4 separate regions of the Homo sapiens genome follow, and regions 1, 3 and 4 are each reported to be linked to region 2. Evidence: microRNA targets listed by miRTarBase, many of them from high-throughput screens and not tested one by one. Region 2 holds a microRNA gene; each other region holds the end of a gene's coding sequence.

The links. The annotated mature microRNA hsa-miR-6744-5p reads UGGAUGACAGUGGAGGCCU and lies in region 2 at 1,797-1,815, opposite strand. An mRNA with a match to its seed (bases 2 to 7 or 8) in the 3' UTR can be bound and repressed. Matches are read on the target gene's strand: a 7mer-m8 pairs with bases 2 to 8, a 7mer-A1 pairs with bases 2 to 7 and ends in A, and an 8mer does both.
Region 1: the mRNA of PCBP2 is a reported target of hsa-miR-6744-5p. Seed matches in the 3' UTR shown: 7mer-A1 at 4,563-4,569 and 7mer-A1 at 4,445-4,451.
Region 3: the mRNA of TNFSF14 is a reported target of hsa-miR-6744-5p. Seed matches in the 3' UTR shown: 7mer-A1 at 3,792-3,798.
Region 4: the mRNA of ING4 is a reported target of hsa-miR-6744-5p. Seed matches in the 3' UTR shown: 7mer-m8 at 670-676.

Annotation. Positions count from the first base shown.
Region 1 is chr12:53,478,964-53,484,023 of GRCh38, reverse strand. PCBP2 (poly(rC) binding protein 2) reads right to left here. Exons shown (of 15, transcript NM_031989.5): 15 at 2,862-4,618. The coding sequence ends at 4,582. MAP3K12 (mitogen-activated protein kinase kinase kinase 12) reads left to right here. Exons shown (of 14, transcript NM_001193511.2): 8 at 4-113; 9 at 301-417; 10 at 538-675; 11 at 835-1,459; 12 at 1,655-1,725; 13 at 1,813-2,083; 14 at 2,744-4,355. The coding sequence ends at 2,842. Among named protein-coding and RNA genes, the nearest start is that of PCBP2-OT1, 17 kb to the right of the region's middle. RefSeq lists an enhancer at 1,156-1,669.
Region 2 is chr11:1,253,355-1,258,424 of GRCh38, reverse strand. It overlaps MIR6744 (microRNA 6744), which reads right to left and starts at 1,820; the gene lies at 1,755-1,820. MUC5B (mucin 5B, oligomeric mucus/gel-forming) reads right to left here. Exons shown (of 49, transcript NM_002458.3): 34 at 4,074-4,333; 35 at 3,545-3,731; 36 at 3,159-3,384; 37 at 2,867-3,042; 38 at 2,200-2,269; 39 at 1,654-1,754; 40 at 1,154-1,185; 41 at 715-895; 42 at 222-326; 43 at 58-95.
Region 3 is chr19:6,660,421-6,665,480 of GRCh38, forward strand. TNFSF14 (TNF superfamily member 14) reads right to left here. Exons shown (of 4, transcript NM_001376887.1): 4 at 833-4,930. The coding sequence ends at 4,506. Among named protein-coding and RNA genes, the nearest start is that of TNFSF14, 7.2 kb to the right of the region's middle.
Region 4 is chr12:6,646,689-6,651,748 of GRCh38, reverse strand. ING4 (inhibitor of growth family member 4) reads left to right here. Exons shown (of 8, transcript NM_016162.4): 7 at 364-425; 8 at 515-1,448. The coding sequence ends at 554. It overlaps ACRBP (acrosin binding protein), which reads left to right and starts at 4,317. Exons shown (of 10, transcript NM_032489.3): 1 at 4,317-4,425; 2 at 4,737-4,955. The coding sequence starts at 4,383. RefSeq lists enhancers at 4,390-4,459, 4,383-4,896.

The DNA of each region.
Region 1 (5,060 bases), not on the chromosome of region 2:
TAGGCAGAGTGGCGGGAAGAAGTAAAACTGCACTTTGAAAAGATTAAGTCAGAAGGGACCTGTCTGCACCGCCTAGAAGAGGAACTGGTGATGAGGAGGAGGGAGGAGCTCAGGTGAGTTCCCGTGCTTGGGGAGGTGATTTTACTAACAGCAAGGACTATGCACCCAGTCAGCTCCTACCCAGCCCCAGGGCGGGTGGAAGGACTACGAAAGGACTGTGGACAGGAATTCTGAGACTGAGATCTGTTATGGCCCTAGGTGAACCCAGTTCACCTTGGGGAACCTTTCTGCCCGTTGCAGACACGCCCTGGACATCAGGGAGCACTATGAAAGGAAGCTGGAGAGAGCCAACAACCTGTATATGGAACTTAATGCCCTCATGTTGCAGCTGGAACTCAAGGAGAGGGAGCTGCTCAGGTAACCCTACCTGTCCTTATGCACCAAGCCCTGGAGCTGTGCCTGCCTTAGAGGTCCTACTGAGACTGGGGTGCCCCTTCCTGGTCATTTGCCCAGCTGAGAAGGTGCCTGGATCTTTAGGCGAGAGCAAGCTTTAGAGCGGAGGTGCCCAGGCCTGCTGAAGCCACACCCTTCCCGGGGCCTCCTGCATGGAAACACAATGGAGAAGCTTATCAAGAAGAGGAATGTGCCACAGAAGCTGTCACCCCATAGCAAAAGGTGGGACATGAGTACTGTGGTTCCAATATGGCAAGAGGGATACTGAAGTGGCAACAGGTATATTAGCAGGGAGATGTGTACTTTAGTGTCCAAGGTTAGGGAGTGCTTTGAGTACATAGATTTGGCAGTCTTAACCTTTTACTTTTCCTCTTCTTCCAGGCCAGATATCCTCAAGACGGAGTCTTTGCTCCCTAAACTAGATGCAGCCCTGAGTGGGGTGGGGCTTCCTGGGTGTCCTAAGGGCCCCCCCTCACCAGGACGGAGTCGCCGTGGCAAGACCCGTCACCGCAAGGCCAGCGCCAAGGGGAGCTGTGGGGACCTGCCTGGGCTTCGTACAGCTGTGCCACCCCATGAACCTGGAGGACCAGGAAGCCCAGGGGGCCTAGGAGGGGGACCCTCAGCCTGGGAGGCCTGCCCTCCCGCCCTCCGTGGGCTTCATCATGACCTCCTGCTCCGCAAAATGTCTTCATCGTCCCCAGACCTGCTGTCAGCAGCACTAGGGTCCCGGGGCCGGGGGGCCACAGGCGGAGCTGGGGATCCTGGCTCACCACCTCCGGCCCGGGGTGACACCCCACCAAGTGAGGGCTCAGCCCCTGGCTCCACCAGCCCAGATTCACCTGGGGGAGCCAAAGGGGAACCACCTCCTCCAGTAGGGCCTGGTGAAGGTGTGGGGCTTCTGGGAACTGGAAGGGAAGGGACCTCAGGCCGGGGAGGAAGCCGGGCTGGGTCCCAGCACTTGACCCCAGCTGCACTGCTGTACAGGGCTGCCGTCACCCGAAGTCAGGTAAAGTATGGGAAGGCTCCCAAGCTCTTTCCCTTTTTCCTTATCCTCCCTGGGGTCCAAGTCTAATCCCCCACATTATGCTCAATTTTAAGCCATTCCCTACTTCACCCTTCGTAACTATGTTCCCTTCTCCTGGATTCTTAGTGACCTCTTTCCACTTCTAATCAGACCCCCCCCACCCCATCTCTCCTGCAGAAACGTGGCATCTCATCGGAAGAGGAGGAAGGAGAGGTAGACAGTGAAGTAGAGCTGACATCAAGCCAGAGGTAAGTGATGGCATTACAAGAATTAATGGCATTCTTGTTTTCTGCTAGGGGCAGAACCAAGCTGTAATCCCCCTCTTCAACATGTAGGTGGCCTCAGAGCCTGAACATGCGCCAGTCACTATCTACCTTCAGCTCAGAGAATCCATCAGATGGGGAGGAAGGCACAGCTAGTGAACCTTCCCCCAGTGGCACACCTGAAGTTGGCAGCACCAACACTGATGAGCGGCCAGATGAGCGGTCTGATGACATGTGCTCCCAGGGCTCAGAAATCCCACTGGACCCACCTCCTTCAGAGGTCATCCCTGGCCCTGAACCCAGCTCCCTGCCCATTCCACACCAGGAACTTCTCAGAGAGCGGGTGAGTGGCACAACAGCAAAAAGCAGATATTGAACAGGGAGAGCTGTAAGCAGATGCCTTGTCTTTTAACAGCTTTTGGGGAGACAGCTGCACAGGCCAGAAAGTACCATAAAGAGCAAATATCCACGTGGTGGAATTTCAGAAGCCTCTTGCACAGAGCATCTATTACGATGCCTGACCAGTAGCTTGCATGTAGCTATAAATTGCAGCCAGGGAATGATTCTGAAAGGAGTCTGACACCTTGGAGAATGGCCTGAGCAACTGAAATCTGGAAGGAATAAAACCAGTAAGCTGGCTGGGCATGGTGACTCACGCCTGGAATCCCAGAACTTTGGGAGGCCGAGGCGGGTGGATCACAAGGTCAGGAGTTCAAGACCAGCCTGACCAATATGGTAAAACCCCATCTCTATTAAAAGTACAAAAATTAGCTGGGCGTGGTGGTGCATGCCTGTAGTCCCAGCTACTCAGAAGGCTGAGGCAGAAGAATTGCTTGAACCTGGGAGGCAGAGGTTGCAGTGAGCCGAGATTGTGCTACTGCACTCCAGCCTGGGCGAGAGTGAGACTCTGTCTTAAAAAACAAATCAGTAAGCCACTGGCTATTAAAATGACCCCAGCAAAGAACCCCAAGGAATCTCACTCCATTTCTACTCTTTCTCACAGGGCCCTCCCAATTCTGAGGACTCAGACTGTGACAGCACTGAATTGGACAACTCCAACAGCGTTGATGCCTTGCGGCCCCCAGCTTCCCTCCCTCCATGAAAGCCACTCGTATTCCTTGTACATAGAGAAATATTTATATAAATTATATATATATACATATATATATATATATGCGCCACATAATCAACAGAAAGATGGGGCTGTCCCAGCCGTAAGTCAGGCTCGAGGGAGACTGATCCCCTGACCAATTCACCTGATAAACTCTAGGGACACTGGCAGCTGTGGAAATGAATGAGGCACAGCCGTAGAGCTGTGGCTAAGGGCAAGCCCCTTCCTGCCCCACCCCATTCCTTATATTCAGCAAGCAACAAGGCAATAGAAAAGCCAGGGTTGTCTTTATATTCTTTATCCCCAAATAATAGGGGGTGGGGGGAGGGGCGGTGGGAGGGGCAGGAGAGAAAACCACTTAGACTGCACTTTTCTGTTCCGTTTACTCTGTTTACACATTTTGCACTTGGGAGGAGGGAGGCTAAGGCTGGGTCCTCCCCTCTGAGGTTTCTCAGGTGGCAATGTAACTCATTTTTTTGTCCCACCATTTATCTTCTCTGCCCAAGCCCTGTCTTAAGGCCCAGGGGGAGGTTAGGAGACTGATAGCATGTGATGGCTCAGGCTGAAGAACCGGGGTGCTGTTTAAGTCCCTGCTTTTATCCTGGTGCCTGATTGGGGTGGGGACTGTCCTACTGTAACCCCTGTGAAAAACCTTGAAATATAACACTCCATGCAGGCCCAGCTGTTGAGGGTTTTCTTGATGAATGAATGGGGTACCATACATGGTTAAGATAAAGCCTTGGGCTCCGGACTTTATCTGAGGTGTCTGGAGAAGTTCTCCTGCCCCTCCACTTTTTTGCATCTACTCTCACTAAATGAGTATAATGTCAAGCCCCAACTTTCTAAAATTATAGGAATAAATGGTAGCAGATACATCCTTCTAACTTGTTATGGAGGACTATAAATGAAGTTACTAAAAACAATAGACTGAAATTTTTAGTTTAAAATATGCAAGCCTGAACAAGGGGACCAACATTCCCAAGAAACTGGAACCCAGTCAGACATATGATCAACTGCTTAATGTGTATGCCATGTATGTCATGTGTCATTCCTTTCCCCCACCCCCTCCCTAGTGGAAGTGCTTGCCTACTCCCCTAGGACAGGTAAGTCCTCGGAAAGTCTAATCCTCAATCTTTTGGGCACAAGTTTTATAAGGGCCAACCAAGCATGGAGTCAGGGAAAAATAGGATCGAGGGCCACAAAAAAAGATGGAAGTGGTAAAATAGAAGAAAACATCTTAACCGGAATAAAGGCTTCCATTCAAAACCCAAGAAGGGTCCTTTGAGGGATAAAAGGTACAAAAATAACAGCAAGACAAGAGGAATAAAACCCACATGAATCACTGTGGCATCCAGTTTCTATTCACAAAGAAAAAGCTCCAGTCCATCTTTTAATTTTTTTGAAAAATTCCTGACATTACAGAACTAAACTGAAATGTATTAATATTCCACTCTTACATTTCCATGACAAACAGAAAAATTCATGAGCCAAAAAAAAAAAACCAGGGAGAAGCTTATAAAACTAAATATGGATCTCAGCATCAACAGCTGAACAGAGAAAGGAATTAAAACGCTTTAATTAAAAAATCACGAGTGGATGATAAAGTGTGTAGAAACTGAAAATTTACAAACTATTTAAAACCTGGAATCGCTGACTGTTCAGAAACTACACAGATGGATCATGGGTGGTGGTGAACAGCAGAAAGGGATTATGGATGAATCTGCATTGTTCTAGCTGCTCCCCATGCCACCCGTCTCCGAGGAAAGCCTGTAACACAGAAACAAGAACTCAGTTAGTTTCCCCAGTGCTCAGCTGCACCTCATCTCTACCTGGTTCATGAAATGTGAAGAGTAAATAACCAGTGCTGGAGTACCAAGGGAGACATTTTAAGGTTTCTTAAATTTACCAGTACCATGATCCTTTAATCCTTGCAATTCAAGCATGTGGAGGTCTATTACCTCAGAACCAAGGGAAACAGCCCTTGTTATCCAATGTCCCTCAAACTATGTTCTCTTTTAGTTCCACCTCCATGGTGGGCTAACCAAGGAGTGTACTTTCTGGAAACAGGCCCCTCTAAAGAGTGCTCACAATACACAGAAGCAATGTTTCTTTATTGCTGAGCTCACTTTGGCTCCTCCCAAACTGCTGACAGAATACCAGTTTAGGAAAGAAAGAGTCATCTGAGAGTAGTCTCAAGGGTTTAATGCTG
Region 2 (5,070 bases):
CATCCCACACACATGTTCAGGCCCCAGGGCCACACCCACCCACTGCTGTGCCCTTACCCCGTAGAAGGTGCCATTGTACGAACACAGCTGAGGTCCTGGAAGGAAAGGGAGCTAAGCCCTCGACAAGTGGTGGGGAGCATGTGCTCCAGCGCCCCCACCATCCTGCACTCCCCCACCCCCAGCAAGAGGCCACCCAGGAGCCCGGCCCCAGCCCCGCTCACTGCAGCGGAAGGTGGGACAGCAGTCGCCCTCCTCCTGGGTGCAGATGGACTCCTGCCCTGGCGGGCACACAGGCAGGCTCTGGGGGCAGGTGGTTGTGTTGCACACTGCGGGAGGATGGAGGCCACTGTCTGGGCGCTGCTCACTCCTCCTCCCGACCACTTGTTCCCAGAGTAAGTCGCAGGCGTGCTTTTCCCCGAGGACCTGACCGCTTCACAGCCCCTGGGGGCTCCCTCCAGGCCCCTTGCTTGGCCACCTCCCCGCTGCTTCCCACGTCCCTGGGCCACTCCTGGGCAGGCCAGAGGTCACCAGCCTCATCGTTAGGAGGAGAATGAAGCACCTGGAGGCCATCTCTGCCGAGTGGTCCTGCCGCGGTCACGCCAGGACACAGTGGCTCTCCTCTGCTCTCCTGTGCCCAACCCACAGGCCCCTGGTGGGCACCGGCTCTGTCCCCCCTCACCCTATGCCGGGCACCTCTGCTCTGCAGCGTCTTACCGCACACCGTCTCGGGGCAGCAGGGGTTCTCGGCCCGGGGCCTGGTCACGGTTACGAAGCCGGGACGGTTGCACGGCGGGGGCTGACCCTGGGCGTCACAGGGCAGGGGCTTGCACTGCACCGACACTGAACCCTCGTCACACACGCAGGACTGGCAGTTGCTGACCCACCGCTCCCCGGGCTGGAATGGATCAAGGGGGTCCCTGAGGGCTCCTGGACAGACACAGGTCAACCCTGGGCATCTGTCCAGCCACCCCCTCCCTCGGGCTGGTACCCGAGTGGCCCAGAGTGATGGGGCAGGAAGCGCACACCAGCCACTGGCACGTCCACGTCACACTCGGGCGCCCCACAGCTGCCCTGTGGGATGGGGATGCTCCTTCCCTCCCTCCCTCAGCTCGCGAGAGGGTGGGGTAGGGCAGGTGGGGGTGGAGCCACTCACAAATTTAGGAAACCCATCGGGTCCCACGCAGGCTGGAAAGAAAACAGCATGGCATCACGGAGGGTGCTGAGTTTGCAGGCGGAGGGGCCTCTGGCCATGGGAGGTGCTCTCAGGCCTGGAGCCTGCTTCCCCCCGGGATGGAAGGCCCTGGAGAACTTTTGGGGTGTCAGATGTGGCTGGAGCTCAGGCCAGGGCACCGTGAGCCCAGCTGTCAGTGCATGGAAGCCTCGTCCATGGTGGTGGGAGGCAGGGCTCAGGGGAGGGACCATCACAGGATCACTCAAGGACAGAGCCTCCCTGTGGGGCTTCAGGGGACCGTGGGGGCTCTGCAGGGTTCAGGGCCACTCTGGGGCCATCCCATGCTCTGGTGGGGCAGAACAGGTCACGGGGGTCAGCTGGGGAGAGGGGAGAGCACATCATGGTCCTGGGCGGCTCCTCCCACCCTGTGTGTGCTTGGGTCGGGCCCAGGGTCGTATCCCGCCACAGGTGGCGGAGCTTACGGCAGGCCTGCACGCAGATGCCCATGTGTGCGTTGAAGAGGATCTGGTCCTCAGGGCAGAAGCAGCCCTCCGCCATCCCCTCCAGCTGTGGGCTCTGGTTCCTGCAGGATGACAAGAGAGGCCCTGAGACCTAGAGATCCAGGAGGCCTCCACTGTCATCCACGTGAGTCCCCAGGATGGGCAGTGGGGAGCAGGGAAGGAGATGAATGGGTGGAGTGCGGGGCTCAGGGTGGGCGGGGCTGGGGGCGGGGACGGGTGGGGCTGGGGTGGGGGTGGGCGGGGCTAAGTATGGGCGGGGATGGGTGGGGCTCGGTGGCGGGGCCAGGTGGGGATGCGGGGCCAGGCGTGGCCAGGGATGCGCCCCCTGCCTGACTCTGTCTCTAAGGCATCTGGGAGCAGCAGGGGATGTTTTCCAAGGAGTCCTGGGCTCGGGCACCCCAGAGATCTGTGGCCCACAGTGGGACACCCTCTGGCCTCCTCCTGCTCCCCCAGACCGGTCAGGCAGGCCTGGGTGGCAGGGAAGGCACCAGCCATCCCTGTACTTACCTAGAGTTGCAGGTGGCAGGCTGTATGGGGCCGCATGGCTTGTACACTTTGGTGGGTGGGCAGGTGAGGTCTGTGGGCACAGAGAGGTGTCAGACAAGCCAAGGGGTTGGGGGGGCCCAGGGCCGCCCCCAATCACCGCACAGGACACTCAGAGAGGCCGAGGAGTCTGGGGGGCCCGGGGCCGCCCCCACTCACCGCACAGGACACTCAGAGAGGCCGAGGGGTCTGGGGGGCCCGGGGCCGCCCCCACTCACCGCACAGGACACTCAGAGAGGCCGAGGGGTCTGGGGGGCCCGGGGCCGCCCCCACTCACCGCACAGGACACTCAGAGAGGCCGAGGGGTCTGGGGGGCCCGGGGCCGCCCCCACTCACCGCACAGGACACTCAGAGAGGCCGAGGGGTCTGGGGGGCCCGGGGCCGCCCCCACTCACCGCACAGGACACTCAGAGAGGCCGAGGGGTCTGGGGGGCCCGGGGCCGCCCCCACTCACCGCACAGGACACTCAGAGAGGCCGAGGGGTCTGGGGGGCCCGGGGCCGCCCCCACTCACCGCACAGGACACTCAGAGAGGCCGAGGGGTCTGGGGGGCCCGGGGCCGCCCCCACTCACCGCACAGGACACTCAGAGAGGCCGAGGGGTCTGGGGGGCCCGGGGCCGCCCCCACTCACCGCACAGGCCACCGGTTGCACCTCGCCAGTCACTGCACACTCCCCGGGCGCGGCAGAGCTCTGCGTAAGCCTCCAGGCTCTGGCAGGGCACCTCAAGGCGGCCCCTGCAGTGGTCGCTGATGCAGGCGTTGAAGAATGGGCCCGGGGGCACAAGGTTGTGGCACTCAGCAAAGACCCTGTGGGGCAAAGCGATCAGGACGGAGGGCCCCCAGCCCCAGGGAGCTGCGTGCGTGCGTGCATGCGGGCGGGCGGGGGCGCCCCAGGGCCTGCAACCCCCGAGGGGAGGACTCACTGGCTCAGCATCAGATCACAGAGCGGCTGTGGTGGGCATGGGGTGGGGGTGGGTGTGCTAGACACCGGGGCTGCGGGGCTGGCAGTGGGGGGTGTGCCAGTCGGGGCCCAGCAGCCATCCTTTCTGCTGTCGGGGACCAGCCACGTCTTGGCCATGTCCTTGCAACTGGCGGCAGTGGTTCCGTCCCGCTGGAGACAGTCGTCCCTCTGGTTGTTGGTGCAGGTGCCTGGGAGTGGGGGCGTCACCGCGGGGCTGGAATCTGGGGAGCCTTTCACAGCCCCCACCCCCCTCCCCCACTCATTCCCCTCCCCAGGCTTCCCCTATGCTCACTGGGTTGTCAGGCCCAGCAGCAGCCCTGGCCGGGGCAGGACCCGCCGCCCACTCACCGCACTGGCCCTCGGTGTTGTTGTGGAAGAGGCTGTAGGGCAGCCGGGCCTGGAAGACTTGGCCATTGAAGGTGACGCTCACGCCCAGGGCAGGAATGTCCACACGCATGGTGGTGGTCCCCAGCACAGACACAAGCACGCCGTTCTTGCTGAAACCGCTGCTCACCGGAATTTGGTCAAACAGGATCTGGGGGAATCCAGGGGAACCCTGAGCTGGGAGGCAGTGCCAGGTGGGCTCGGGGAGCAGGGCTTCTCTTTGGGGCTCTGCCTCCATGTGCAGAGACCCCCCTGTGTATCCCCCACCCCAAAGCCCAGATCTTCCCTGGGGGCCTGGAGTCTCCAGCTGGCTGCATTTAGGCCACAGGGTGCGCTCGGCCTTAGGCGGCTCCACAGGCCTTCCCTGCCCCCTGGGAGCTGTCTTGGGCACTGGGCCATCGCTGCGGCACCTGGGTCACCCCGGCCTGCAGTCGGCCTGCCCAGGTGCGGTTGGGACTGGGCCAACACTGTGCCACCCGCAGCCTGGACTCACCAGGCCCTCCTCCTTCCCATGCACCATGGTGACAGTGAGGACGATATCCATGGACTTGTAGTGGATGCTGAGGGCGCGGGGGCAGCGGGCGGCAGCGGCAGTGGCAGAGGCCGTGCAGTAGTGGTTGTCCAGGTAGAGGCTGAGATTCCCAAAGCGTGCATGGATCTCTCTCATGAGGACATAGGTGCAGTTGCCCCGGAAGGTGTAAGAGGTGCCGTCAAAGGTGGAATAGTGGGAGCCGCCCCACATGCTGCAGATGCCTGCGGGACAGAGATGGACGGGCTGGCAGGCTCCGTGGTGGTGCCCTCGCTCCCCAGGCGTCATGGCAGCCAGCGTCACCACTGTGACTGCCGCCTTGGGGAGCCACTGAAGCCCCTGGGGCCTCAGCTGCCTCGTCTATAAAAATGGGTCCAGTGTGTAGAATGGGGTCCCCCAAAATCTATGGCTATCCCAGAACCTCCGCATGTGGCTTTGCCGGGAGAAAGTGTCTTTGCAGATGGGATTAAGGGAAGCATCTTGAAATGACATCATCGTGGACTAGCTGGGTGGGCCCTCAATCCAATGACCAGTGTCCTTACGGGAGACAGAAGAGACACAGACACAGAGAGGGGAGGCCACAGAGAGGCAGAGGCAGAGATCGGAGGGATGCAGCCACAGCCAAAGGACACCTGGAGTCCCCAAAGCTGGGAGAGGCAGGAAGGACCTCCCCAGACCCTCAGCAGGGAGTCTATCCCCTGCCCGCCTGGATCTCAGACTTCCAGCTCCAGGACGGAGAGTGGGTTTCTGTTGTATAAGCTCCCCAGCTTGTGGCGGTTTGGAACAGCAGCCCTGGGCCAAGGACATGGGGAGGAGTGAGAACGCCGTGACCTCTTAGCGGTGGGTCCCGCACGGTGATGGAAGCCGCTGTTAGGACCCAGGAGACAAAAGCTCCTCTGGGCTCCCGCTTCCATCCTGAGCTTCTCCTGGCCCCAGAAGCCCCTGGGCAGGGTCCCTTTCA
Region 3 (5,060 bases), not on the chromosome of region 2:
GGTGGGGGTCCCGTGATGGGATCAGTCAGATGCCCGCCTGGCCACTCCCCTTGTGAGGACTCAGGCTCCTCTTAGCTTTGGCAGGCCGGTATAAACGCCCGTTCAGATCCAGCTATGCTCAATGCTGCCCTAAGCCTTATGAGGTCACCACGGAACCACAGGTGAGGGCCCACTCGAACTCTGTAGCTTTTGCCGTGGAGCTACAAACTGAAAATTCAAGCGCGAGCCCTTGACCTCCACATTCACTCACTCACTCACACAGAGTTTATTACAATTCTTCAATACCCGTTTTAAAACAGAGGTCTCCTTGAGACCTCAACGAGAGGAGAAGAGATAGAGAGAGAGAGAAAGAAAGAGACTAGTCTTACAGAGATGCCTGACAGAAACCAGGACTCTGTCCTCCAGCATCCTGGAATTTGGACAGAGTCAGAGGGATGCCCTCATCAGAGCCGCTTCCCTCCCAGAGAAACAGAGTCAGACAGAAACCAGGACTCTGTCCTCCAGCGTCCTGGAATATGGACAGAGTCAGAGGGACGCCCTCATCAGGGCCACCTCCCTCCCAGAGAAACAGAGTCAAATCTGACTTACCTTCCCGGGACCAGACACTGAGGACTCAGGAGTTGAATTTGGTTGAGGACACCGGCAGCCGATCCGTTCCCCTCTGGAAGACGGTGGCCTACACGTCCCTGGAACGTCTTTAGGTGGCGCCTCCCCTATAAGCTCGCCGTCTGTCCAGGGGAGCCCGGAACGGGTCCAGATTTCACCCGGTGGCGGATCTCGCTGTGGCCTCCAAATGTTGTAACTGAGTGAGTTATAGAGAAATGCCACACTCTTAGACTAATTCAGGAGTCCTTTATTAGCCGGCGACTGAGAGACGGCTAGCGCTCAAAATTCTCTCCACCCCAAAGAAGGGGCTAGGTTTCTTTTTATACCTTGGTTTAGAAGGGGAAGAGGGAGCCGAGCTGAAGCAATTTTACAGAAGCAAAACAGGCAAGAAAGTGAAAAAGATAAATGGTAACAGAAAAACAAACAGTTCCAGGTGCAGGGGCTTTAAATCTATCACAAGGTGATAGACGCGGGGGCTTTGGGTGCTATCAACCGGACGAATTCCTGGGAATTGTGGATATAGCTTGTCACAGTATCTTATCAGTAATCGCATTCTTGGATGTGCTGGGAGTCAGCTTAAGTCCTTGAGGAAGGGGGGTGGGTGAGAGACTGCAAGCGAAGAAGCCAAAATAGAGTCTGCCTGGCCCTCTCAGCTAAGGGAGAGTCAATCACGTTAAACACAAGGTAGGGTATCACATTGGAATTACAGGCATGAGCCACTGCACCCAGCCGACATCACCATCCTTCCTGACTCTGAATTTATATACTACTAACCAGCAATCATTTTCCTCCACCTATTCAACACAGAAGTACCTAACAGTAAAAGATGAGAGATACCTATCTGGCATGTGAGAAAATGATATATAGCTACTGACGGGGATTTCCTTTGAGGATGCTGAGTAAACTTCGTGGTGTGTGCCTGCATTTCCACTGCAATCTATCACATGTGATGAGTTGTGGAATTTCCCACTTGTGGCATCACACTGGGGCTCAAAGAGTTTCAGATTTTGGAGCATGTTTTTTTGTTTTTTGAGATGGGAGCCTTGCTCTGTCACCCAGGCTGGAGTGCAGTGGTGTGATCTCAGCTCACTGCAACCTCAACCTCCAGGGTTCCTGCCTCAGCCTCCCGAGTAGCTGGGGTTACAGGTGCCCCCCACCACACCCAGGTAATTTTTTGTATTTTTAGTAGAGATGGGGTTTCGCCATGTTGGCCAGGCTGGTCTGGAGCTCCTGACCTCAGGTTATCCGTCCACTTTGACCTCCCAAAGTGCTGGGATTACAGGTATGAGCCACCACGCCCGGCCTAGATTTTGGAGCATTTTGAATTTGGGATGGTGAATCTGTACTGTTGTTCCTCTCCCCCCACAACCATCTTGCCGATGGGGAAACTGAAGCATTGAGAGGTGATGGAAATTGCTGGAGGTCATATAGCTGGTGAGTGGCAGAGTGGACTCAGAACCCAGGATCATCTGATTGCAAAATCTGTTTCCTTCATCTCTGTACTGTGCAACAATGACAAGAATACTATTGGCGATAACAACAATAACCCACAAATTTTGACTTGTCATTCACAACAACAACAAAACAATAATAACAATACATTCACCTCTGGGGTCGAAACCCATATCCTAGAATCCTAGGAACTAAGGATTCCCTCCAGCCACACTGCAGCAATGCTCATTTGCATAGACCCTCTAATTTGTATGCATATCATTATCTGCCCCCACCCAACCCACCAGCTCCCTGTGTTTTATGCTTCCAGCTGGCTTGGCGGATTGTCATTCTGTCCTGGATGTGTCTAATAAGGGCGTCTTGCGGGATGTAGCCTCTACTTCCTCAGGAATTGTGGATTGGAGAGGAAGCCAGATCCAGACGTGAGGTCTCTGGTTTCCCCCACATTTCCTGCATGGACTTGAGCCAACTGGGTCCAGGTTCCTCATCTGTAGAATGACCTCCATGGGTCATTACCTCCATCCCTCTGCCTCTAGGAGCCACCACTTGTTGCTGATGGTTGCCCCCCATCCGACTCCTCCCTTTCCCTGTGGGGCTCTTTAGGCCTGACAATTCCTCTCCACCCTTCTTCAGTTTGTTCCCCTAAGAACTAGACAGATCCAGGTACAACTATTTGCCATTTATTTCAAAGATCAGTGGTTAAGAGGCCCAGGGTTATGAACAAGGTCTGGTCCTCACCCCGAGATGTGTTAGTCTGGGCTGGGGAGGGCCCTCAGGCTGTGTGTATATGTGTGTAATGTTGTGTGTTTGTCATTGTGATGTGTGTGTGATGTGTGTGTCATTGTGATGTTGTGTGTGTGTAATGTTGTGTTTGTCATTGTGATGTGTGTGTAATGTGTGTTTGTCATCGTGATGTTGTGTGTGTAATGTGTGTTTGTCATCGTGATGTTGTGTGTGTAATGTGTGTTTGTCATTGTGATGTTGTGTGTGTGTAATGTGTATTTGTCATGGTGATATTGTGTGTGTGTATGTGTGTAACCAGGTCTGACTATAACTTGGTCTGTCTGTGTCTAATGTAATGAGTATTAATTACCAAGTGTGACGGTGACACCTCTGGGAGTGGCTGTGTAGCTGGGATGCTGTCTGAGTTTTGTGTGCTTGTGTTATAACATACACACAGTGCTGTGACTGTCTGTGATGCCGTCTGTGACTTCCATGTGATTGTGTGGTTGTGCATGAATCTGGCACTTCGCGTGTATGAGTCTATAGTTGTGAAAGAGTGGCTGAGATTATGCAGCCATGTGACAGATTTTGTGGGATGCCATAGGTGTGACTGTAGAGTCATTCTTCCTTCCTTTCAATCAGCAAGCATTTCCCTAGAGCATGCTTTGTGCCAGGCCCTGGGCCGGATGCCGGGGACAGATCCGTGGTGTCCTATTAGGGATGTCTATGCTTGGCAGTGATGAAATCAGCCATGGTGGTAGCATTTACACCATGGAAATTGGCAAACATTACAAAGCTGTCCCCCTCCCAGGACAGCTGGTTGTTAAACAGTTATGAGCACGCTGCCGTGCTCATGTATCTGAGTGTAACTCTTTGTGACCAGGCTGAGGTGTGGCCACCAGTCTGTGGGTGGGATCTGAGTATGTGGGGTGGGGCTGGGCTCTTCATGATGAGTCCCGATGATCAGTCTCCCGCCCACCCTGTCCGTACTCATGATGAGAGTAGGGAAGTGGATGAAGTTTCCCACCCCCAGCCAAGTCCCTGGAATCCCAAGCCCCACTTTCTTCTGAATCAAAAGCATAAATACCCACCCCTCACCCCTTCTTCCTGAATATCAGGCAAATCAACTTTACCCCATGTTTGGGGGCCCACAGACCCCAAGTCTCTGGGTTTTTGTCCTTAGTATTGTCCGTGGCAGGGTCTGCAGTCTACGTGGGTCTTCTGAAGGTGCCTGCTGGGGCTTCATCTCGCCTTGGTGGTGCCCACTGAGCTCTCCGCCTTTGAGTTTTGGGTTCCCTGGAGTGTCCCCCAAGATCTGTTTCCTGAGTTTTCTTTTTTCTTCCTTTCTTTTTTTTGAGGCACAGTCTCACTGCGTTTCCCAGGTTGGAGTGCAGTGGTGTGATCTCGGCTCACTGCAACCTCCGCCTCCCGGGTTTAAGCAAAATTATCCTGCCTCAGCCTCCTGAGTAGCTGGATTACAGGCAGGCACCACCACGTCCGGCTAATTTTTGTATTTTTAGTAGAGATGGGGTTTTGCCATGTTAGCCAGGCTGGTCTCGAACTCCTGACCTCAGGTGATCCGCCTGCCTTGGCCTCCCAAAGTGCTGGGATTACAGGCGAGAGCCACCACGCCCAGCCTCTGCTTCGTGAGTTTTCTTTCCCCTGAGGCACCCTCTGAGTTCTCCACGTGTCAGACCCATGTCCAATGCACCACGCTCCTTCCTTCACACCATGAAAGCCCCGAAGTAAGACCGGGTACCATCACGCAGTCGAACCAGGCGTTCATCCAGCACACGGACGACCACCTTCTCCCCAGCCTCCAGGTGTACCACACCACCCAGGAAGCTGCTGTCCCACCAGACCCGGGAGCTGCTGGTGGCCCGTCCGCAGGGTGACTGCTGGCTGACCAACAGCTCCAGCTCCTCGGGGTAGCGGGGTGTGCGCTTGTAGAGGCCGTGGGTGATGGTGCTGGCCAGGCCCAGCGGGCAGCCCACACCGCCCAGCTGCACCTTGGAGTAGATGTAGTAGTAGCCAGCTTTGGTGACCACAAGGGCCCCATCGTGGTAGCTGAGGCCCCTCAGGAAGGCCAGGCCCAGCTGAGTCTCCCATAACAGCGGCCCCCCGCTGCCGGTCAAGCTGGAGTTGGCCCCTGTTGGGAAGAGAGAGACAAAGGGGGCTGCCGGTCAGCACATGTCTTCCTCTGTTGCTTGTTTGTTTGTTTGTTTGACACAGAGTCTCGCTCTGTGGACCAGGCTGGAGTGTGGTGGCATGATCTCGGC
Region 4 (5,060 bases), not on the chromosome of region 2:
CCAACACGGTGAAACCCCGTCTCCACTAAAAATACAAAAATTAGCCAGGCATGATAGCCTGTGCCTGTAATCTCAGCTGCTTGGGAGGCTGAGGCAGGAGAATAGCTTGAACTCGGGAGGCGGGGGTTGCAGTGAGCTGAGATCATGTCATTGCATTCCAGCCTGGGCAACAGAGTGAGACTCTGCCTCAAAAAGAAAAAAAGAATAGAAGGAAGATGGTGGGAACTGGTTGGCCTTGGGACTTCCAAGAATTCTCCAAAAGGATGGAGTAAAGGACAGGATGTTCCTAAGGAATCTGGAGGGGCTTTCTCTCCTTCCTCTGGCCCTTCCTGGCCCCTGACTACTTCTTTCTTCCTCTTCCAGTGTTCCATTGAGTGGTTCCATTTTGCCTGTGTGGGGCTGACAACCAAGCCTCGGGGGAAATGGTAAGTGGCAGGAGTTGGAGGGTCCCTAAGTTGAGTGGTCAAGGGCATTCTCCCTTTCACTCACTTTTCTCTCCCCTTCTCTGTTTCAGGTTTTGCCCACGCTGCTCCCAAGAACGGAAGAAGAAATAGATAAGGGCCTTGGATTCCAACACAGTTTCTTCCACATCCCCTGACTTGGGCTAGTGGGCAGAGGAATGCCTGTGCTGGGGCCAGGGGTTCAGGGAGGAGTGGATGGCACAGTGCTGTCATCCCTTCTCCTCCCCTCTCCCCACTCCCGGTGCTGAGGCTGCATCAGACCCTGGTAGGGAGGGGTGCCGCAGCCACTAACGGTATGTGCTCTCCTTCAGCCCTCTCCCTTCGGAGGGACGTGGTCTTGCCCACTGTCCTTTTGCCTCCATGCTGAGGTCGGTGCTGTATTTCAGAGGGAGGGTCCTTTTCATTCTCCTTGCTTTGTATTTAAGGACTGGGGCATAGCATGGGGGCAGTCCCCCAGACCTCTTCATTCCCCCTCCTGTGGTGAGGGCTAGGTGTGATCAACACTTTTCTTCTCCATTCCCTTCCTGCTTTTTTCATGGTGGGGGATCCACCAGGTCATCTAGGCTCTGGCCCTAGTTGAAGGGGCACCCCTTCCTCTGTGCCAAGAGGATTCATCCTGGGAGAGGGGGCAAGGTGGAATGCAGATAACTCACATGTAAAAGGAACTTGGGTAGGTAAATAAAAGCTATACATGTTGGCCTGCTGTGTTTATTGTAGAGACACTGTTTTAGTAAACATGCTGAGCATTCATTTTGCGTCCTCTGGGTTGGATGCAATGTGAGAGGATGGCATGCCAGAATTAGGACACGACATGAAACCAGAGTGGTGCCTCTGTCCGAGAACTTGTAAGTTCTCAACTTGGGAAAGACAGAGGTGCTGGAGGGTAGGCCTCAGACCAGGGGGTCTCCAAAACTTTGTAAATCATGCATCTTTTCTCCATAAAACATCTTTCACTTAATTTCCAATAAATGATGTATTTGTGCTATACATACGTACTGCTATACTATACATTAGCTTGACTTCTTTTTTTTTTTCCTTTGAGGCGAAGTCTCACTCTGTTGCCAGGCTGGAGTGCAGTGGCGTGATCTTGGCTCACTGCAGTCTCCGCCTCCGGGTTCAAGTGATTCTCCTGCCTCAGTCTTACAAGTAGCTGGGACTACAGGCACATGCTACCACGCCCAGCTAATTTTGTATTTTTAGTAGAGACAGGGTTTCACCGTGTTGGCCAGGATGGTCTCCATCTCTTGACCTCATGATCTGCCTGCCTTGGCCTCCCAAAGTGCTGGGATTACAGGCGTGAGCCACAGCACCCAAGCTGATTTCTTTTTTTCATTTTTTAAAATTTTTTTTAAAGTAGGCCAGGCCCGGTAGCTCACGCCTGTAATCCCAACACTTTGGGAGGCCAAGGGAGGTGGATCACCTGAGGTCAGGAGTTCAAGACTAGCCTGGCCAACATGGCGAAACCCGGTCTCGGCCAAAAATACAAAAATTAGCTGGGCGTGGTCATGGGTGCCTGTAATCCCAGCTACTCGAGAGGGTGAGGCAGGAGAATCGCTTGAACCTGGGAGGCAGAGGTTGCAGTGAGCTGAGATTGTACCACTGCACTCCAGCCTGGGCGATAGAGTGAGACTCCGTCTCAAAAAAATAAATAGGCTGGGTGCGGTGGCTCACACCTGTAATCCCAGCACTCTGGGAGGTTGAGGTGGGTGGATCACCTGAGGTCCGGAGTTCGAGGCCAGTCTGGCCAACATGTTAAAACCCCATCTCTACTAAAAATACAAAAATTAGCCAGATGTGGTGGCATGTGCCTATAATCCTAGCTACTTGGGAGGTTGAGGCAGGAGAATCACTTGAACCCAGGAGGCAGAGATTGCACTGTGCTGAGACCAGCCATAATTTTTGTATTTTTAGTAGAGACTGGGTTTCACCCTTTTTTTTTTTTTGAGATGGAGTCTCACTCTGTCATGCAGGCTGGAGTGCAGTGGCGTGATTTCGGCTCACTGCAACCTCCATCTCCCGAGTTCAAGCAATTCTCCTGCCTCAGCCTCCCGAGTAGCTGGGACTACAGGCACATGCCACCACGCCTGGCTAATTTTTTGTATTTTTAGTAGAGACAGGGTTTCACCGTGTTAGCTAGGATGGTCTTGATCTCCTGACCTCGTGATCTGCCTGCCTTGGTCTCCCAAAGTGCTAGGATTACAGGCATGAGCCATCGCACCGGCCAAGTTTCACCATTTTGGCCAGGCTGGTCTCAAACTCCTGGCCTCAAGAGATCCACCCTCCTTGGCCTCCCAAAGTGCTGGAATTCCAGGAATGAGCCACAGTGCCTGGTCTCTATTTTATTAATTTATTTTATTTTATTTTATTTTTGAGACAGGGTCTCACTTTGTCACCCAGGCTGGAGCACAGTGGTGAGATCTCAGCTCACTGCAGCCTTGACCTCTGAAGACTCAGGTGATCCTCCTACCTCAGCCTCCCCAAGTAGTAAGTGGGACAACAGGCGCACACCACCACACCTGACAATTTTTGTATTTTTTGTAGAGACAGGGTTTCGCCATGTTGCCCAGGCTGGTCTGGAACTCCTGGGCTCAAGGAATCCACCCGCCTTGACTTCCCAAATGCTGGGATTACAGGCGTGAGCCACCAAGTCTGGCCCAAGACAATTTCTTGTTTTATTTTTCTTTTTTACTTTTGCTTTTGGGTGGGGACAGGGTCTCACTTTGTCACCCAGGCTGGAGAGCAGTGGCCCGATTGCACCTCACTGCAGCCTTGGCCTCATGGGCTCAAGCGATCCTCCCATCTCAGCCCCCCAAGAAACTGGGACTACAGGCACGTGCCACCACGCTTGGCTAATTTTTTGTACTTTTTGTAGAGACGAGGTTTCGCCCTGTTGCCCAGGCTGGAATTTCTCATTTTAAACACAAAACAGATACAAAAGCAAAAGTTCTCCTCCCATACCTCAGTGGACTGTCTTACTCGATTCTCCCTTGGAAACCACTTTCGTAGACCACTGAGCCACCCTCTTGTTTTCCCCTTGGACCCATTTTGCTCATGGAGGCGCCCTGTCTAGTTCCTACCCAGATAGGCCTTGACTTGGTTTTGCACATTCTATCTCTGCCTGCGCTTAGCTCTAGACCTCACGACCTGTTTGTTGGGCGAGTTGCTTCCCTAAGCCCCGATTTCTCATCTGTAAAACGAATGATAGTGTATCTACCTTATGGGATTCCTATGGCAATTACGTAAGGTAGTGCATGTAAAGATGCTAAGTGGCTGGCTACGGTGGCTCACACCTGTAATCCCAGCACTTTGGGAGGCCGAGGTGGGCAGATCATTTGAAGTCAGGAGTTCAAGACCAGCCTGGCCAACATGGTGAAACCCAGTCTCTACTAAAAATACAAAAATTAGGCCGGGCATGGTGGCTCACGCCTGTAATCCCAGCACTTTGGGAGGCCGAGGTGGGCGGATCACAAGGTCAAGAGATCGAGACCATCTGGCCAGCATGGTGAAATACCATCTCTACTAAAAATACAAAAATTAGCTGGGCGTGGTGGCGTGCACCTATAGTCCCAGCTACTCGGGAGGCTGAGGCAGGAGAATCACTTGAACCTGGGACGCCGAGGTTGTAGTGAGCCGAGATCGCACCACTGCACTCCAGCCTGGGCGACAGAGTAGGACTCCGTCTCAAAAAAAAAAGAAAAAGACGCTAAGTGAAGGTAGCTGTTTGCCATTCCTACCATCTGGATGGGCTCTGGCCACTTTAGGGCCCTGAGAGCCCGGCTGTCGAGGCCCCGCCCCGGCCCGCTCTTTGTGACGCGTGGGCGGTGCCCGCGTGCGCCCCGCCCCGCGCCTGCGGCTCTCTCTGCGGCTTGGCCCGTTAGAGGCGGCTTGTGTCCACGGGACGCGGGCGGATCTTCTCCGGCCATGAGGAAGCCAGCCGCTGGCTTCCTTCCCTCACTCCTGAAGGGTGAGAGGTTTACACCTGCTCCAACAGACTCTCCCCGGGCTAGTCCTCTCCCTCCCGAGAGCTCTGCTTTTACGGTTTCTGGATCGCTTCCTCATGGTGGTCGCGCTGGGTCGGCTCCCTAGGTCCTGGGATACTCCCATCTCCCCCCGCCCGCGGCCGGACCTTTGCCTCTGTCTCTAGACTCCCCCCGCCCTGGTCAGCAGGGATAACCCTCACCCCGTTCCTAATTTGCCAGTCTGGGTCTGTCTGTCCTGGTCTCGGAGCGGGTTTTGGGGTTCGGTCCTTCCATCATCCGTTCGCCCGCTCCGCAGTGCTGCTCCTGCCTCTGGCACCTGCCGCAGCCCAGGATTCGACTCAGGCCTCCACTCCAGGCAGCCCTCTCTCTCCTACCGAATACGAACGCTTCTTCGCACTGCTGACTCCAACCTGGAAGGCAGAGACTACCTGCCGTCTCCGTGCAACCCACGGCTGCCGGAATCCCACACTCGTCCAGCTGGACCAATATGAAAACCACGGCTTAGTGCCCGATGGTGAGGGCCAGACTAGGGGGGAAACCGAGGCACCCAGAGTGTTCACCCAAACCTCAGGGCAAAAACCCCTGTGCTCATGTGAGGCGGGGAAGGGCATGGCTGGCA